Linked DNA regions of Homo sapiens. The protein of the gene in region 1 purifies or fractionates together with the protein of each later gene. This does not show direct contact. Each region holds a gene or a part of one and is shown on either strand. Other genes may lie near its edges.

What was found. The genes of interacting proteins can lie anywhere in the genome.
Region 2: the proteins of ZCWPW1 (region 1) and PLXDC2 purify together in Homo sapiens (affinity purification with mass spectrometry; one large-scale study listed by BioGRID and IntAct). This does not show direct contact.

The regions. Positions count from the first base shown.
Region 1 is NC_000007.14:100,402,538-100,404,703, reverse strand, and holds part of ZCWPW1 (zinc finger CW-type PWWP domain protein 1), read left to right. Parts: intron 1-459; coding exon 460-526; intron 527-918; coding exon 919-1,010; intron 1,011-2,127; coding exon 2,128-2,166. UniProt on the Homo sapiens protein: Dual histone methylation reader specific for PRDM9-catalyzed histone marks (H3K4me3 and H3K36me3). Facilitates the repair of PRDM9-induced meiotic double-strand breaks (DSBs). Essential for male fertility and spermatogenesis.
Region 2 is NC_000010.11:20,214,932-20,218,431, reverse strand, and holds part of PLXDC2 (plexin domain-containing protein 2 isoform 1 precursor), read right to left. Parts: intron 1,007-3,500; coding exon 856-1,006; intron 1-855. UniProt on the Homo sapiens protein: May play a role in tumor angiogenesis.

The sequences.
Region 1 (2,166 bases):
TAAGCCTAATGTGTAATTTCAAGTGAAAATAGTATGGAAAATGAGGGCTGGGCAGGGGGTTCACGCCTGTAATCCTAGCACTTTGGGAGGCCAAGGCAGGTGTATCCATTGAGTCCAGGAGTTCAAGACCAGCCTAGGCAACACGGCAAAACCCCATCTCTGCAAAAAATACAAAATTAGCCAGGCATGGTGGTGCATGCCTGCAGTCCCACATACTTGGGAGGCTAAGGCAGGAGGATCATTTGAGCCAGGGATGGGGAGGTTGCAGTGAGTAAAGATTGTACCACTGCACTCCAGCCTGGGTGACAGAGCAAGACCCTGTCTCAAAAATAATAATAATGATAATTTTGGTATGGAAAATGAATCAGAATTTCATCATAACTAAATTCCAGAAGACAGAAGGCAAAAGCTGCGCCTGAAAGGGTAGTGGATGATGCTTTTGTTTCTTGGTTCCCTTAGGAACGGGTTAACTTGTTTGGTTTCTGGAGCCGATTCAACGGATCTAACAGTAATGGGGAAAGAAAAGGTAGGATAAATGGAGGTTGAGGACTGGAGAAGGATGGGAGGGATTCCTTCATGAGGGCAGCAACCCATGTTTTTCTTTATTTTATATTCTCTATCATCAGGCTAATTCTGGATTCTTTAATAGGAGGCTCTTGTGAATGTCATTGACCCAGTATCTAGGATGGATGGGCAGATGAGTGGAGAGAGGAATGGGAGAAACAGAATGGGGAGGGAGGGTGTATTGAATAGTGATGGACTTTGAAAAGGGTGGAAATCTGGGATCACATTTTATGGAGAAAATACCACTTGTACACAAAAGGCACAGTTAGAAGACAGATTCTTTGTGATCAGCTTCATTAACTCACTATTTTATGGTATGAATGATTTAGCCTTTCCTTCCTTTTCCTGTTCTAGACTTACAGCTCTCTGGTTTGAACAGCCCAGGATCCTGCTTAGAGAAAAAGGAGAAAGAGGAAGAGTTGGAAAAGGAGGAAGGAGAGAAAACAGTAAGATTAGCTTTAATTTCAGTTTTTATTTTTATAGAGATGGAGTTTCACCAGGTTGCCCAGGCTGGTCTCAAACTCCTGGACTTAGGCAATCCTCCCACCTCAGCCTTCCAAAGTGCTGGGATTACAGGCATGAGCCACCACACCTGGCCAACATTAGCTTTAAAAATTGTTTAGATGGCTGGGTGTGGTGGCTCACGCCTGTAATCCCAGCACTTTGGGAGGCCGAGGGAAGCGGATCACGAGGTCAGGAGATCGAGACCATCCTGGCTAACACAGTGAAACCCCATCTCTACTAAAAATACAAAAAATTATCCGGGCATGGTGGTGGGCACCTATAGTCCCAGCTACTCGGGAGGCTGAGGCAGGAGAATCGCTTGAACCTGGGAGGCAGAACTTGCAGTGAGGCAAGATCGCGCCACTGCACTCCAGCCTGGGCAACAGAGCGAAACTCCCTCTCAAAAAAAAAAAAAAAAATTGTTTAGACAAGGATCTTGGGGTTTCCTTTCAGGAGCTTTCTGTAAGGATCTCGTTAGAATGGACTTAGATTTACTAAGGAGCTATCCTGACCCTGCCTTGAGGGAGCCCCAGTTGTCAGATATTTGGGGGTTTCTAAGTCTCTTCTTTCCTCTTTATTCTCTAATTTCCCACATCTCTAGGAACTTCTTTCTTGAGTATAATCTCAGTTCCTACTGTATGTATTTGACTCCTCAGGGAGCAATTCAGAGAATACCAGTTGTTTCTTTCCACTCCTTTCTCCCCTACATGGACATGGAGGATTTTCATTCACTTGTTTTCTTAGCATCTCTTTTCCAGGTATAGGAAATATATATTTTCACTTTTTCTTCTAATTTTTAATTTAGCAATTTTTATCATACTTGTGGCCTAGCTTTATTTCCTTCTTTTATGCCTAAAGCCTTGCATTGATGAATACCAACAGACTGGGAAAGTGACCATACATTTTTCTCTGTGTTGCCAGAAATTTAAACAATATCAGGCTCACAGAAGCTACTTTGATTCCCCAAAGCCCACCTGTCATTCTGTAGCATCCTTCTCTATTAAAAACAGTTAGGGGCCTTGATTTATCATTTTTTTAAACTTTCTCTCCCATCCTCAGGACCCAATTTTGCCCATTCGTAAGCGAGTCAAAATACAG
Region 2 (3,500 bases), on another chromosome or scaffold:
TTTTAAAAGCAGTAAAATGCACTTAGCAGCTGCTTTCCACCCCACTTTATTCCAGTTCACCTTATAATATCAAATTAAATTCCAATTAAAAGTTCCATATTTAATTTTTTATTCAAGCCAAAGAAAGTGAGGCTTATAACAATAAACAAGTAAGACCCATTTATCCCCCTCAAACCTGATTCGTGGCCAGTCTTATGTTTCTGCCCTCTCCCTCCTGGTGGTATCATTCAGAATAGAAAATTATCGTATGTTGGGTAATACACTTTCTTCCTCCTGAGCTGTGCCCAAGCATTAACACTCTCTAGTATTTCTGCCTACCTTAGAAGAGGAAATAGTTGTTTTCAAGGACAATTTCTATGACACATACAGTGTTTCTGTATAGGTTATAGACCAATATATTTTATTGACTGCATTCTGGAAAACATTAGAATTATATATTAATAGAATTATTTATTGTTCAGAATCCAGAATCAACGGACATTTTATATGCATTTTGCCTTTCTAACCTGTGATTGTGAAGTTGGATTTGCTTAGTACAAAATTTAGCCACACAGGAAGAAATCTGTATTTCTTTTCTAGGAAGGAGAGGACAAGAAGCCAGAATCAATGGTAAAAGCTATGTCTTAAAAAAAGGCACAGTGCATTAAAAGAATCCCAGCATTTACTTTTAGTTCATAATAATTTTGTCTTTTTCCCCTTTGGAAATCCCTTAGAAATCCAGTTTGCCAAAGAATAACTTTAGAGAGACCTAGAGAGTAGGAGCTATTCCAGTACATGTCAACACAGTGATTTTTCCTTCCTTCAGGGAAAAAAAAAAAAAAAAAAAAAAAAAAAAGCAAACTATCTCTTGGGTACCTTCTGTAGGGAGGCTGGTGGGAAACTGAGAAGTCACTGCTCTTCTGGTGGTAGTTAGGACCCTGAACTGGGTGGTTGTCGCTCCTACGGTTGTGGTGGTTCGAGAAGAAGTTTCCACTGGTTCTGTATTCTCACACATCTTCTCTTTTGACTAGTAAGAGAAAAGAAAAGGAAAACAAATGGAGTGATCACAAATCTATTTTTAGAACTTACATCAAAGAAGCTGGGCTGTAAAGCACAAAAGCCTCTCATATCAAGACAAGGAATAAATTACTTTTGTACAAGACTATATTAATGATTTTGCTAATTTATGAAGTTTATAAAATAGGAAAGAGAAAAAGATGGATGGAACAAGGCATTTCCCTTTTTAGATATTTAGGTTTCATCATTTACTGCTGTTAAGCTTTCATATTACTGTTTACCTTGCCCTAAATTTTACATTGGTATATTTATAAAAGACACACTGTCAAAAGGGAAAATTTATACTAGAAGAAAAACAGGTGCATAAAGATAAGGTTTAAAACATACTCAGGTTTGTGGAGAAAAAGTGCATTCCTTTCGTATCAAACTGACAATGCTAAATCCGAAATATTTGCTAACTTCCCCATACTACTTCATTGTTTCAAAAATCATCTGTCACAAGTTGAATGAATGTCTAAAATTTTGTTTTCCTTTATGAAATATTCAAAACCACATAAGCAAAGGATTGAACAGAACTCTTGTAATCACTCAGCCTATTTTCCTCCTTAGCAGAGCTATATTGAAAACATCAGGAAATGAGACATAGTGAATTTTTTATTTTTAATTTGTGAAAACAAATCCTACAACCTTCACTGGTAACAACCTCCAACATCCAAACTTTTATAGCTTAGAAGTTGGTGTTTCTATCCACCTTTTGTGCCGCAGTGGACTCCCTCTCTCAGGTGGGCCTTGAGTAGAAAATAACTATTCTGGACATGAGTGGTTCTCATCCCACATTTTAAAATTATTGTTAAATAAATATCATTCTTAAACTTCTCTCATCATTAGTGGAGCGCTAGGTGCCTTTCCCCTTGTTAATGCAGACTTCCTGAGACAGCCTCCTTTTCATTAATAGGATATGAAACAGGTTTATTCTCCACTTCAAGTCTAAACATACTAGGGTCTCATTTAATTCCCCAAATTCCAGTTCCTGCACCTCTGAGCCCCATTAATCTAATTATTTCCTTTCAGATACCACTTTAGTTGTCATCCCCACACCCTGGACTATATCTGTAGTGGAAAATGTTTTAGATCTGAAATCATAAGCTCAGTTATCCTTTTTCCATCTATCCCTGTACCTGCGAACTCCAATTCTTCTTATTCTTTGACTACTTAGAAAGCCTAAGAAAATGATTTTGTTTTTAAGTTTCTTTTTCCCCCATTACTTCAACCACTCATTTCAGTAGCTTCAAGCATCTTGCTCTATTTTTTTATTTTTTTTTTTTTTTAGTTTTTTTTTCTACAACACCTTTAAAGAAAAGATCTGCCTTTTCCCTGCCTGCTCCAAAGCCAGGCACAGCTGGAGAATAATCACACAGACCCGCCATGGGGGCTCCACAAACATCTCCTGCATCCTTAGCAGGGCCGTGCATACCACTTGGCAGCATTGCTGTGTCTTGCTAATCACCTCTCCCATTATGCTCAGTATGAATTTCAAGCTCTCTCCACTTTACCTAAAACTGCAATCCCATCATGATTCTCCCGGTTTTACTCCTTGGGTTCACCTTCCATTTCCTTGATAAATAGGCATGATCAGCAAGATTTCTTTAAATTTCTTAGTGAATCAGCATACTTACTTGACTCTGGGCTGACCTATTCTTTCCTTCTGTGATAATGGATGGGGACCTTTCCTTATAGCCATCCTTTCAACCTATTTCTACCTATGTCCTAGCTCAACTCAGCCCACCTTCACAGGTATTGTGAATTTGCTTAGGTGATCATAGTCCTTTCTCTACAATATTTGCCACCCCTAATTCTCTGCTGGCTTCTTATCAACAACACTTAAAGGTACACAAGCATGCCTAATCTTATTTTGCAAACCCAAATTCCAGTTTGCAAAGGGAGGCAGTCCCAGAAGAGGGACTGCCTCCCTCTTCTCCCCAATGCATCCTGACATTATACTGCTTTCCCTCCATTCATACGCAGTCATATTTCCAGAGAGATCAGTCTGCCTTGGTCTTCTCAGACTCCCAGCTTTCCCTTTTATGACAATCTTGCTCTTACCTAATCCAACTGAGTTGAAATTTCTCGTACCAATGTTTCTAAATATCTCCTTAGCTAAATATCCAACATCTTCCATGGTGTCCTACTGACACCTCATCAGCCTATGGTGCAGATGTCCACTCCCCTGTCTTGGTTTCTGTGACACACCCTCTCCTCAATGTTCTGACACCTCCCTCACAACTCCATCTCAATTTCCTTTTATTTATGTCAATTCCTTAAGTGTTGGGGTGGTTCTTATGGATCATTCTTGCTCTGTCACTTCATTCTATGCATTATCTTTTGCAATCTCTTCTACACCCATGACTGCAATGAACATCTTTATGTTGATTATTCATAAATCTATATTTCCAGTCCACATTCCTCTTTTGGATTTCAGGCCCAAAAAGTCATCTATTGACCAG